4 linked regions of the Homo sapiens genome follow. Changing the gene in region 2 together with the main gene of any one other region gives a genetic interaction. Each region holds a gene or a part of one and is shown on either strand. Other genes may lie near its edges.

Evidence for each region. Genes that interact genetically often act in the same process or in processes that back each other up.
Region 1: changes in CIT (region 2) and EDA together harm fitness less than expected from each alone (positive genetic interaction), as found in Homo sapiens cells (one large-scale study listed by BioGRID).
Region 3: changes in CIT (region 2) and EIF3H together harm fitness more than expected from each alone (negative genetic interaction), as found in Homo sapiens cells (one large-scale study listed by BioGRID).
Region 4: changes in CIT (region 2) and SCO1 together harm fitness more than expected from each alone (negative genetic interaction), as found in Homo sapiens cells (one large-scale study listed by BioGRID).

The regions. Positions count from the first base shown.
Region 1 is NC_000023.11:70,025,113-70,028,612, reverse strand, and holds part of EDA (ectodysplasin-A), read right to left. Parts: intron 757-3,500; coding exon 577-756; intron 1-576. UniProt on the Homo sapiens protein: Cytokine which is involved in epithelial-mesenchymal signaling during morphogenesis of ectodermal organs. Functions as a ligand activating the DEATH-domain containing receptors EDAR and EDA2R. May also play a role in cell adhesion.
Region 2 is NC_000012.12:119,867,321-119,870,820, forward strand, and holds part of CIT (citron Rho-interacting kinase), read right to left. Parts: intron 1,882-3,500; coding exon 1,740-1,881; intron 1-1,739. UniProt on the Homo sapiens protein: Plays a role in cytokinesis. Required for KIF14 localization to the central spindle and midbody. Putative RHO/RAC effector that binds to the GTP-bound forms of RHO and RAC1. It probably binds p21 with a tighter specificity in vivo.
Region 3 is NC_000008.11:116,745,824-116,749,323, reverse strand, and holds part of EIF3H (eukaryotic translation initiation factor 3 subunit H), read left to right. Parts: intron 1-2,197; exon of another isoform or gene 2,198-3,500.
Region 4 is NC_000017.11:10,684,034-10,687,533, forward strand, and holds part of SCO1 (protein SCO1 homolog, mitochondrial), read right to left. Parts: intron 2,810-3,500; coding exon 2,694-2,809; intron 1-2,693. UniProt on the Homo sapiens protein: Copper metallochaperone essential for the maturation of cytochrome c oxidase subunit II (MT-CO2/COX2). Not required for the synthesis of MT-CO2/COX2 but plays a crucial role in stabilizing MT-CO2/COX2 during its subsequent maturation.

The DNA.
Region 1 (3,500 bases), on a different chromosome or scaffold from region 2:
GTGCCTGGGTTTGCTTCATCCACAGCCTGAGTGACTCTTAAGTTTCTAACTTCTTGACCATTAGTGACTACTTGCTATGGGAAAAGCACTTCAGACTTCACAAGATGAAACTATCCTAGGGCTTGTCATTTTGTTCAGTCCTCAACTTTCTACTCCATAGCCTATTTCTATGCAAACATCAGCATGTGGAGCTAGATGCTGGGAATCACAGAAGATTACATCTATTCCCCACTGGAACTCCTGTGAACCACCAGGGCCTCTGTCTCTGGCTCATATGAGTTTTACTGGTCCACTACAGGGAGGCCAAGAGTCAGGGAGGGCTTGTAACAGAAGGGTTGAGATGGGGCAAGAACAGGTGGCCTGTCCTTGACAGTTTGGTAGATATAAGAAGCTAGAGCAGGCCAGGCCCTACTGGCTTGTCCAATTCCTAGTTTTACACTGGGCTAGGAGATCTGCATCCCTTATTGCACACCAACCCCATCTCCACCGTTTGAAACTGCTCTCAGGATCACCCACTCCTGCTCTCCTAAAGTACTTTAAAGGCACCTGGTGGGGTGGAGAGACAGGGGAACTCACCAGAAGGTCCCTGGAGGCCAGGGGGTCCTTGAGGACCAGGAGGACCTGGAGGACCAGGTGGTCCCATAACAGTTGTTCCTGGAATTCCAGGAATCCCTGGAATTCCTGGGGGTCCCTGGGGTCCTGGAGGTCCTGGGGGTCCTGGAGGGCCATTGGGTCCAGGAGGTCCTGCTTTCTTTCCTGAAAAATAGGATTCAGTGTTACTTTTTTTTTTGAGACGGAGTCCTGCTCTGTTGCCCAGGCTGGAGTTCAGTGGCACGATCTCGGCTCACTGCAACCTCCACCTCCCGGGTTCAAGCGATTCTCCTGCCTCAGCCTCTGGAGTAACTGGGATTACAGGCGCGTGCCACCGCGACCTGCTAATTTTTGTATTTTTAGTAGAGACGGGGTTTCACCATGTCGGCCAGGTTGGTCTCAAACTCCTGACTTCGGGTGATCTGCCTGCCTCAGCCTCCCAAAATGCTGGGATTACAGGCGTGAGCCACCGCGCCTGGCCTCAGTGTTACATTTGTAGTTATTTCCTGTGATGAGTGTACTGTCAGGAGTTCTACAGACTTCTGAGGACACAAAGTCAGCTCTCTGGGAGGCCCTGCTAAAGAGTTGGATACCTTTATCACACATCTCTGTCTCCCTGTCTCCGTCTGTCTTATGCTTTCTCTCCCCTCCCCCCACTCCCTTTTGTGAATATGCATTTACAAAGCTAGGTTTGAGCATATAGAAATAAGTGGCCCTCCAGGAGATCAGTCTGTGTCTGTGGGGAAACAGACACAGTCATGGGATAGTAGAAGTGCTACCTTAGTGGGTAGGGACCAAATGCTGAAGAGGTCAGAGAAGGTTTCAAAAAGGAGGTTACATTTCAGCTGAGTCCAAAGGATGAGAATTTCTCTACCAAGTGATTAGACCTATGGGTCACTTTGTGGTTCTTTTTAGAAAGGGCTATTGTTGAAGAATGTGGAGCTTTTATGTTTACTGCCCAGTTTGGTGGACTTGATGTCGATAACAAGAGGAAGCCGTACAGCCTGGCCTTAGGAACAGTATCAGCTCCAGGAAGGTTCCTCCAGGAGTCAGGATGTACAGGAAATGGGGGTTGGGATGGGGACAGTGCTAGTCGGGAATGAGGAATGGGAAGGAGTTTTGGAGATGGGGGAATGGAGAAGGAGGAAGAGGGGCACGGAAAGAGGAGGAGGGAGAGAGAGAGATATTGAGAAACAGGAAAGAAGCAGAGACAGAGAGTAGAGGGAGCTGAGGAGGAGGCAGCAAGTTTCACTCTCTCAGCTGACCTCTGTAAACTCTATTTTAAAAGATCTCTGGGAAAGGAAATTCTGCAAACTCCATAGTAACATGTTCCAATGTTTATTGCCCCTCACTGCTCACTGTTAGGAAGTTCTCTGGTATATTAAATGATGTCCCTCTTGTGGCAGTTTAAGCTCTTATTCTATTTGTGTAGACAGAGAAGAATATACATATACATAATAATCCTTATATATGAAAAGAAATTAAGTTACCCACCAACCCCTATTTCTATAGGCTAAATAATCCAGCTTCCCAAAGTCTTTCCTCAGAAGTCCCATTCTCAAATGTATTATTAATCATGCCCACCAACTCTTCCCCCTTTCCTCCTTGCTATCCTTCTAGAACAATCTCGACCCTCCTATTTCATATTCCAGTCCTTTCAACATTCCCACCAGGATGTAGTTATCTTAAATGAGTCATAACTGTGGTCTTGAACCAAAACCTCCAGCTCTTCCTGTTGACTTCCTCTGCTCTGTGCAGCTCCACTCAAAGACTACATGTAGGCACAGGTCTTCTTCCTTCCTTCACCACCTTCTCACAATTTTATGGAAAGTTTCAGGAATGGAAGCCTGTTTCCAGACTTCATCACAATGTCTTCACCTGAGGTAGTTTCTTAGTTTTAAATACAACCTTCTCTAGTCTCACTAAAAACCTTCTTACTGACTCTGACTTCTTGCTCCCCAGACACTTAGGCAGGAGAATCTTGTCCTGATTTATCAGGTCCTCCCTTAAGAACAATGCCTCATGGCCAAGAAACCCAATCCTCATGGCAATGCCACTCAAGAGGCCATTTGTCTATGTCTAACCACATCTGCATTTGGAATGAAACCATGGGGTCATCGTGGGGTCTCTTCCTCAGAAAGGAAGGAAAGGAAGGTCCAGAGAACATCTCTCCCAGAAGAGTCCCTGTAGCCTTAAAGACCTAGAGGCATGAGCTTTAGAGGTTTCTCTGCACTTAGCAGCAAAAGATTGGATCTGCCCCGTTTCTAGATCTAGCCAATTTCAAGATGCTGAACAGGAAAACCATCTCCTTTCAGATTTGGGCAGCTTCCAAATCAGGCTTATTCAGAGCCCAAGTTTCAATTCCAGCTAGTGTAGTGGAAAGAACACAAAATCTGTACTCAGGAGATAAGGATGTAAGCCCCAGCTCTGCCACAGACACACTTTGGGCAAATCCCTTCCTCTCCTTGAGCCTTAGTTTCTACATCTGTGAAACAAGGAGCTTGGCCTCAATGATTTCTCTGTTTCCTCATGAGACTGAGTTTCTATAAGGAGGGGTGGCTTACCCCTTGCAGTCAGGAAGCTTTCTTAGCCTGGTTGTAAGGTTTGCTTCTCCCTCCTTATTTTCTAGGTGGCACAGACACAGAAGTTGGTGCATATTAGGCTGTCCTGTGTTCCAAGATTTCCAAGCCTAACAGTGATTTTCAAGCTAGAGGGTGTTCTGTGGGTAGCACAAACTTCACCTTCAAGAATGTGAGTCTCCTGTAATTGCTAATGTAATTTTGGAAGAATTAGAGCCAGAAACTCCTCCAGTCCAAGAGACTAATGGTTGCAGTGAAAACAGAGAATGTTCACTTATGAAAATGTTAGAAGGCATTTGAGAAAAAAAAAAACTCCTGCTTTGTTCCAGT
Region 2 (3,500 bases):
TGGGATTACAGGCGCCCGCTGCCACATTCAGCTAATTCTTGTATTTTTAGTAGAGACAAGGTTTCACCATGTTGGCCAGGCTGGTCTGGAACTCCTGACCTCAAGTGATCCGCCGCCTCAGCCTCCCAAAGCGCTGGGCTTACACGCATGAGCCACCGCGCCCAGCCACAGTGACTATTGTTTTAAGTCAGTAATATTTAGGGTGGTTGGTTGCACAGCAATGTTGTACAAGGTGGGGTTTCTCAAATTCAGCACTGTTGGCATTGTGGGCTACATAATTCTGTGTTATGGGGGCTGCTTTGTGCACTGTAAGGTGTTTGGTGGCATCTCTGGCCTCACCCATTAACTGACAGTAGGACCCTTCCCCCCAAACTCACACACCACCACCCCCAACTAGCTCTGACAACCGAAAACGTCAAATCACCCACTGGTTGAAAAACACTAATGTAAGAGTATGAAACTGGGACACTAACAGCCAACTGCCTCATCACATGGAAGTCAAGCAAAGTCAGAAACAGGGTGAAGGCAAGGCCAATATATGACTTCATAGGCCCTAGGTACTTTTGCCTTCCTCAGCCCCTTCCTCCATTAAAAACAAAAAAGAATTCAAAAATTATATTTTATGGGGCCAGGCATGGTGGCTCACACCTGTAATCCCAAAGCTTTGGGAGGCTGAGGCAGGAAGACTGCTTCAAGCCTGGAGTTTGAAACCAGCCTGGGTAACATAGTAAGACCCTATCTCTACAGAGAAAAAAGCAAAAATTAGCTGGGCGTGGTAGTGTGAGCCTGTAGTCCCAGCCACTGGGGTGGAAGGATTGCTTGAGCCTAGAAGGTTGAAACTGCAGTGAGCCATGATATACCACTGCAATCCAGCCTGGGTAATAGGGCAAGACTCTGTCTCCAAAAAAAACAAAAATTATATTTTATGACTACATTAGTATAAAGATGAATGTAATCCAGAATCATTATACATTATTATATTCATTTTTCCTATAATTTTAAAACAAATTAAAATTTAATTCAGTTAATTAAAAGTAATTAAATTCATTAAAATTAAATATCACAGATCCTAAGCACCGTGCCTACTCTGCCTAATAGAAAGTCAGCCCTGAGTGAGTATAAGGACAGGGCCACGGGATATTATTGAGGTCTCTGGAACTAGCTATGCCTAAAGCTAAAACTTAACTCATTCCTGGATTTCTCAGTTTCATGAGCCAATAAATTCACTCTTTTATTCACACAGGGTCTCACTCTGTCACCCAGACTGGAGTGCAATGGCACAATCACAGCTCATTGAGCCTCAACCTCCCGGGCTCCAGTGATCCTCCCACCTCAGCCTCCTCAGCAGCTGGGACCACGGGTGCAAGCCACCATACCCAGCTAATTTTTGTATTTTTTGTAGAGATGGGGTTTCACCATGTTGCCCAAGCTGGTCTTGAACTCCTGGGCTCAAGCGATTCACCCACCTCAGCTTCCCAAAGGGCTGAGATTATAGGTATGAGCCATTGCACCTGGCCTAAATTCAGTCTTTGAATTAAGTTTGTCGCTTGCAACCAAGAAGCCCAACTTACCTGGTCTCCCAGCTATAAGAGGTGCAGCCTGAATTTGAACCTGGATCTGTCTTATATAGAACCAGAGTTCTTACCGACTACTATCAACCAGTAACTCATTCTGCCTCAAGCATCTTTCTAGTTTTTCTCTCTCAGGACAGTTTTCAAGAAAAAGTTCCCCAAACTTACACTTCCGGACAAAGTTGCTCACGTGCTTAATCTTCATCAGAGCAGGCTGACTGCATTCTTCAAAGAGAACAAAGAGGGCATCTAATATCCCTTCTCGGGAAAGAGGAGACATCTGCTGTTGAGTCATAAAGGGTGGTTTCCCCTAAAAACAGCAAACAGCAGATGGAGACACTGTCAATAATGAAAAGCTTTGATCAATAACATCCACACAGAGTAAATTACAAGCCACCAACTCAACTAACTGCTCACGACATGCTAACAGCACAATTCTGTGGCTTCATTCTTTAAAGCAACGTCAACTGACAGTCATTATGGTATCACTTCCATGATTCCAAGACTGTGGGTTTCTTTCACCAGCACCTGGGAAGGAAAACTGCACAAGCGTGGCCATTAACAAGAAAAGCTCCCTCACTCCTGAGGGTCTGAGGCTAGTGAGAATATTTCCTCTGGATCCTCTGGCTCTGACATGCTTCCATGTTTCTACAATAGGAAACAATGGGTTTTTCACTTCTTTCATGTGTGCCCAGGGGTTTATTCATATAATTTCAGCTTTTTTAATTCATTTGAACAACCTAGAGTAATAAGAACTGAGTGACCATCGTAAAGCCAAATTTACTCATGATCTGGAGAAATAGTTACAAACTGGCAGACTGTCTCTAGCCCACAGATATGTTTTGTTTGGCCTGTAGTGTTTAAGATAATTTGAATTATCTGCCAATATTTCAAAATCAGGAGATTCCATACAAAAAAATAAAAATGGAGTCTCTGGCTTCTTTTGAAACACTGGCACATCCGGCAACACTGCCTCGCCTTCCTGCCTGATGACGCTGAGCTGGAGCTGAGTAATGCTGCCCCTCCCGGTAGCAGATGTGTTTGGGAGTTCACTGCAGGTCTGACTCCATCTTCCAACTGGCCCACTTGACTCATTTATACTCACTGCCTGGCCCCCAAAGACATGAGTCTGCAACCCTGGTATAGAGCAGTGATTCCCACGTGCCAAGCCATGGATAGTGGTGGTCTCTCTTCAAAGATGGCCTCCAACAGTTCCTCCAATTCTGTAGGCACATGCTACTCCTTACTTTAAGCGCTGGAGTCTATTTCTCCTGCCTTTGAATCTGTGCCATCTCTGAGACTCTCTTCAACCAAAAGAATGTGACACAAGTGACACTGTGCCAGTTCAGGGCAGTGCCTTTAAGAAGCTTGTCAAGCGGCCAGACACGGTGGCTCACATCTGTAATCCCAGCACTTTGGGAGGCCAAGACGGGTGGATCACTTGAGGTCAGGAGTTTGAGACCAGCCTGGCCAACATGGTGAAACCCTGTCTCTACCAAAATACAAAAATTAGCCAGGCGTGGTGGTAGGCACCCGTAATCCCAGCTACCTGGGAGGTTGAGGCATGAGAATTGCCTGCACCCGGGAGATGGAGGTTGCAGTGAGCCGAGATCACACCACCGCACTCCAGCCTAGGCAACACAGTGAGACTCCCTCTCAAAAAAAAAAAAAAAAAAAAAAAAGGCAGCTTAGCAGCTTCCACTTTTGGGAAGCCAGCCACCATGCACAGATGCTTGGGCTAGACCAGGGGTGTGCAATCTGTAGCCCTTGGACCAAATCCAGCCCACGGACTTTTTATAAGTTTTACTGGAACACAGCTACACCCATCATTTACATATTGTCTTTAGCTGCTTTTGTGCTACCATGGCCAAGTTGAGTGGTTGCAACAGAGACTACAGGACCCACAAAGCCTAAAATATTTATTACTTA
Region 3 (3,500 bases), on a different chromosome or scaffold from region 2:
CTTCCTTTCTCTGAGCTTTTTAATGACAGCTTGTATCATTCACCTTGGTATGTGATCCATACTGTTAGTGATTTACTGTTAATATATTTTCCCCTTCTCATTGAGATGATAACCCTTTTGAAGGCTGAAGTATAAAACATTTGTCTCCTCCATAATTCAGTGCTTGAAACCCATTGCTATTGAAATTTCTTACCTTTTAAATTTTGTTTTCCCCTTTAAGTTATCTTATTAGATACCTTATTCCCCTGGTTTTGTAAGTAAGGTAGAGTATGTTATTAATAAATAGAAAAGTATGAGTTACATATACAGTCAGCTCTCTATATCTTTGGATTCTGAATCCAGCAATCTCACATCCATGGATTCAACCAACCATGGATCGAAAATACTAGGAAAAAAACAACTAAAAATACAAATAAAAACCAATACAGTATAATAATTATTTACATAGCATTTACATTGTATTAAATGTTATATGCAATCTAGGGATGATATATAGGAAGATGTGCCTAGGTTATATGCAATAACTAATGCTACACCATTTTATATAAAGGACTTGAGCATCTGCGAATTTTGGTATCCAGTTTGGTCCTTGTTTCTGTCTGAAACTCTTTTTACTTGTTGCTTATTTCTTCACACTAGAATATCAGCTTCCTGAAAGTGGCACCCATGTCAGGTTTGTTCACTACAGTATTTCTAAGGGTCTAGAACAGTACCTCGTGTATAGAAGGCACTCAGATGTTGTGAATGAATGAATATACTCCTGTTGTGTGGAAATTTTCTTGAAAATCAATCATGAAGAAACTGGGTTAGTAAATGCTTGAGTGTTGGTGAGAAAAGAGCACACAGTTGAGGATAAGCTAGTTAGCTTTCTGGGCTTGTTCATATTTCTCCATCTTTTTATTTGTTGATTTCTTATCTGTTTGAAAAATCACTAATATTAATTGGACACCTATTATAAGACCCTGTACAGGGATGTTTGGTTAAATTTTGTGTTGTTTGGTTAAATTTTTTGTTAAATTTTAGATGTTGTGATCCTCACAACAGCTTTGGGGATAAATGTTATCACTACCTTACCTACCTGATGGTTATTCAAATCTAATGGAAAAATTTTGGTGGAAGTACTTTGTTTTTTATTTTGTTTTGTTTTGTTTTTGTTTTTTTTTTTGTTTTTGAGACAGAGTTTTGCTCTTGTTGCCCAGGCTGGAGTGCAATGGCATGATCTTGGCCCACTGCAACCTCTGCCTCCCAGGTTCAAGTGGATCTTGGCTCACTGCAACCTCCGCCTCCCAGGTTCAAGCGATTCTCGTGTCTCAGCCTCCCAAGTAGCTGGGATTACAGGCATGCGCCACCACGCCTGGCTAATTTTTTGTATTTATAGTAGAGACGGGGTTTCACCATGTTGGTCAGGATGGTCTCGAACTCCTGGTCTCAGGTGACCCACCCACCTTGGCCTCCCAAAATGTTGGGATTACAGGTGTGAGCCACCGCAGCAGGCTGGTGGGAATGCTTTGTGAGTTGAATCAAATACTTCGAATTTGTAATGCCAGGCTATCACATGTGTCACTGTAGATTTTTTGTGATACTCTTATGAATTTAAAGAGACTGGACAACAGCTTGTTTAAATTCCATTGAAATGGAAGCTCTTCTCTGAGATCCTGGTCTGAAGTATAATACAGTTTGGCCTTTTAATGTTTTAACAACAAAAAAAATTATATGACCCTTGGCCTCTTCTTCCAGTTTTCTGACTTGAGTGGTGCATACGTAAGTTGTTTGACATGTGAGATAATTTTTTCAGTCAGATAATTTGAAATCCTTTCAAGCACCAAAACTTGCACATTTTAGCTATTTTAATTATATGTGTTTCTGAAGTGTAATACATAATTTTCTGCTGCTTTAGTCAGAGAACATGGAACACAATCTAACCATGTTTTGATGGCATAGTATTATCATTAAGAACATGTTATTGGGCCGTGCTCCCGCCTGTAATCCCAGCACTTTGGCAGGCTGAGGTGGGCGGATCACCTGAGGTCAGGAGTTCGAGACCAACCTGGCCAACATGGCGAAACCCCATCTCTACTAAAAATACAAAAGAAATTAGCCGGGCATGATGGCGGATGCCTGTAATCCCAGTTACTCAGGAGGCTGAGGCAGGAGAACTGCTTGAACCTGGGAGGCAGAGGTTGCAGTGAGCCGAGATCACACCACTGCACTCCAACCTGGACGACAGGCAGAGACTCTGTCTCAAAAAAAACAAAAAAACAAAAAAACATGTTATTGAACCAGACAGGACAGTAGATCTGTCAAGAAATCCCTTCGGGTAGTCTGTTATTTCTATAATAAATGTCCCCTGTTGTTGAACTTTAGGTGCCTTGAGTGGTTTATGTTTCTAGTTGGTGCCTTTTTTGGTTGTTAAATTTATCTGTTTCTTATCCCCTTGCTTTTCAGGTTTTTTTTTGCTGTGAGTGAAAAACCAGTTATGCAGGATTATCTCTAACCTGAGTATTTGTGAGTGAGGATTAAATTCGTTATGCAGTCTGACATTTTGATTGCTTAGTTATATTTTTTGCTTAGGCAAGTAAGATGTTATTGCTTACAAATAGTAACTTTTTATAATAGAAAAATCATTTAGCGTACATTATTATATCTTGGTAGCTCCAGGAACTGGGCGGACTAGTATTATCTGGATTATACATGTGATTCTCCCACTCCAAGAAGCTGGGTGGCTTTTCAAAGACATAAAGTGAATATATCCTGGAGCTTGAATTCAGATCACATCTAGCCATCCTTGACTCATTTTCTTTTACATTTTATAGCAGCTTCATATACTTGAAGACCCCAGTAGTTATTCTGTGTTATGTGACAGGTACTGTTTTAAGTATTGTGTATTTATTATGGCATTGAAGCAATACAACAACTCTTTGATATAGGAACCATCATTATCCCTATTTTATCAATGGGGAGACGTGGGTACAAATAGTTTATGTGATTTGATTAATGTACAGATGGAGGAAATAGAAGTTAAGGTGTGTACAGAATAGTTAATCTAGTGCTTCTTGTTTGAGCATTGGGAAATATGTTTTTCAGAACTCAGGTGTCTTACAGACTTCTAACTTTAAAATGTATGAGAAAACATACATTAGAATCTTTACGTTTGATAATCAGTCATATTGTAGAAGATTTGTAGCTATAAGAAGTCAATTTAGTAAATATTCTGAAGTTTGGAAAAATGCAACCTTAAACTGCTGAGTTCACATATTAAGATACTGGGGATCAATAGTAAAGAAAATCAGCATATTAAGGAGCATTGGGAAGAGTACTGGTACGTGTCCCTAAGTAAGTTAGTTTACCTGCATTGGGTGGTAATTCTAAGTCCATCTGACTTTTCCTTTTTTTTTTTTCCTTTGAGACAGAGTCTTGCTCTGTCGACCGGGCTGGGGTGCAGTGGCCCGATCTTGGCTCACTGTGATCTCCACCTCCTAGGTTCAAGCGATTCTCGTGCC
Region 4 (3,500 bases), on a different chromosome or scaffold from region 2:
AAGAATGTCTCCCCCTATTGGATGATTTAGCAAATGTACAGCATGAATTCCTCATCGAATCTCATCAAAAGTCAAATTCTTATGGCAGTAGGCCAGTATTTCTCAAAATGGGGCCAAAGATACATTCTACAAGGTCCAAGAAGTTTCCATAAGACTTACATATTTTTGTTTTCATTTGTAATTAAAAACATTAATATCCATATTCTGGATTATCTGTGTTGTGAGTATAAATTTCAGTGCCCAGGCTTGTGTTTGCTCCATGATCTCACTGGCACCTAGCTGCCCACTGCTGTTACAGGCAGACATGAATATGATACATTCTTGCCAAATCAACACTAACCAGGCAAGGCAGGCTACACGATTAAAGGTTTCAAAGTATTTTAAATAGAAAATGCAGAGGGGCAGTTGAGTAGAGTTGGGTATGTGATAGCAGTCTGACCAAAACCCCCTCCCTTCTTGCCCTGAGCAGCACTTTGGTTTCAGCAAAATCTCTTGTCAATGTAACTGAATGTTTTCAATTTAAGTTTTGCAGGCTGTTTGGGTTTATTTGTACAACTGCTTTCTGATTTGACTTTCTGACTCTGAGTTATGAGTTCTAAGCATCAAGACTATGGAGTGTTACCTAGTTTAGGACTGTATACATTTAAACAATTTAATATAACTCATTTAATGCTGGAAATCAGACTGATGAGCTCATCTATTCCTGCTGTCATCATCGGATAAACTCAAAACCAGTTAATACAACTCTCTATAAAGACAGAAGTCCGGAAAGTCCTTTTCCTATGGTTTCCTCTTTTGGCCACTGTGGCTCTCTGCTCTTCTCTCATTCTGCTAGAGAAGCAGCAAGAGGAAAACAGAGGAGGGTCCCTCTACTTTCCTTACAATTAAGGCTTAAAGAAAAGTGCTCATTTTTCTCATCTTTTACTCCAAGGAATCCAAGTTTCCCTAATTCTACGAGGCACCACATCTGGAAGACAGGATTACTGTGTAGGCTTAATTAAGGCAAACAGGCCAGAACCTTGCTTTTAATTCAGGCTGTAGGCTCCAGGGGCACACACGTTCCAGGTTCAAAGGGACAAAGAAATCATAGTTGGCTGTTGAGACAAAGCACTGCAGTGAGACATCCCATCCCCTCTGCATCTCAACTCTTGGGATGGGCCATGGGGAGCTGCTGGATCAGTGACTCAGGGTCTTGGCCATCTTTCTTTCTACAAAGACAGCTTCACAGCTAGAAAGGCTCTTAGGATTACTCTGCCCAAACAATATTATAGAAAAAACAGAGTATGACAACTAAGAAAAATACTGAAATAATGCTAAAATACAACGCCGACTCTTCATATGATAGGAGAAAAATGTCCAAATTGAGAGGAAAATTGGTGGATAGTGGTGGTGCTAATGCCTTTTGGTGCTTCACTGTGAAACCACTGACAAGAAAAGAAACACAGTAACTTGGGCATGACCTTAAGGCTTCTGGGGCAGTGCTGATGAATATGAAGATAGTTAATTTAAGAGCTACACAAGTACAACAGAATTTCTGTTCCTTATCATTAAAAAGCACATATTTAACGCCTAACTGTCCAAGGCATATAGTCAATGGGCAAATAAACCTTTCATCTTTTGCTTTTCAGAATTCTCATTCAACCTAAAAATGCAGTTCTCCATGGCCTAAAACTGGTTCTCCAGAAGAGCAATTTCTGATACCTCTACTGGGGACACAGTGAGAACCAACACAATCTTTTTAAAATAAGTGTTGTTCCAAATGATGGCTTCTCTTTATTTCCAACATGGCACCCAAGTATCTGGTTTTAAACTGCCCTAAAATCCTATATGCCACTATAAGAGAAAAACAGGCAATTGAATTATGAGAACAGTGAATATAAATCAAACAATCATCTTTTAAAAAACTGCTTCTGGCTGGGCGCAGTGGCTCAGGCCTGTAATCCCAGCACTTTGGGAGGCTGAGGTGGGCAGGGCAGACCACCTGAGGTCAGGAATTCGAGACCCCCTGGCCTCGCCTGGCCAACATGGCAAAACTCCTTCTCTACTAAAAATACAAAAACTAGCCAGGCGTGGGAGCACATGCCTGTAATCCCAGCTACGCGAGAGGCTGAGGGAGGAGAATTGCTTGAATCCGGGAGGCGGAGGTCGAAGTGAGCCAAGATCGCACCACTGCACTCCAGCCTGGCTGACGGAGTGAGACTCCGTCTCGAAAATAAATAAAAAGTAAAAAACATGCTTCTATTATCCTTTCAAATATTCAAAATTCCTAAGGAGGCTGGATGCGGTGGCTCACGTCTGTAATCCCAGTACTTTGGGAGGCTGAGGCGGGTAAGGTCAGGAGTTCGAGACCAGCCTGGCCAACGTGGTGAAACCCCGTCTCTACCAAAAAATATAAAAAAGTAGCCAGGTGTGGTGGCGCGCACCTGTAATCCCAGCTACTCGGGAGGCTGACATAGGAGAATTGCTTGAATCTGGGAGGCGGAGGTTGCAGTGAGCGAAGATTGTGCCACTGCACTCCAGCCTGGATGACAGAATGAGACTCCATCTCAAAAAAAAAAAAAAAAAAATTCCTAAGGACTTTGCAATAATCTTAGGTATTCTCTCTTCTCAGAAGCTAGTCAGTCATTGAAAGCCTTATGACTATTTGGGATCTGGGAGCTGGTCCATGGGTTAAAACTGGAACATTTACTCACTATGTAGTCTTCATCTTCGTCCTTGGGGCCAGGGCTGTAATACACTCTGTATGCTCTGGCCACTTGATCGACCTCTTCTCTCGTGCCAGTCAAGCCAACCAGTTTGGGAGAAAATTCTAAATAAAAAATGAGAGAGACAGTGAAAAATGAGAAGCCAGTAAAACAACCATCTCTACTTCAAAAAATGTATCAGTTGTAAAGCAGCTCTACTGCCACTTTCTTCCTGTGAGTCTCCAAACATTTCTTCACGATTCAAAGGAAAAGGAGAAGAAATTCACAAAGAACAAATGAAAATTCTCCTTTGTAATATATAAGTCAAATCTTTTTATGACTATCTAGTAAAGACCTGGAGGGAATATTTTCTAATCACTTGTATCACATTTTAAATTGATTTTTAAGGAGTAGTCACATGTAGTTCTCAGATATACTAAAGCTTAAAATTATTATCATAAATTAAATACTATAACTTTTCATGGCATCATATGGGGAAAAAAATTTGCTTCATAACTAAGTTCATATCAGGTCAAAATACCTGTGTCTTATTTTCCTGCAAATAATTTCAACACTGGTATCAAGTTCTACTCTTTACTTCTGATTTAAAAAAACTGGTTAATTAATACTAGTCATCCCCAAAACGCAATCTTAACAAAGTTCTGAAATAAGGGCAAATCATTCACAGCGTGTATCTGCTATTAAGTTTTTGGAATTCATGTAAGTGAACCGGTAGAGGTCACTTAAAACAACTGGATTCATCAAACTACTGAAATGACAGCCCAACATTTAACAGCAGTTCCTTTTTCTAAAGGT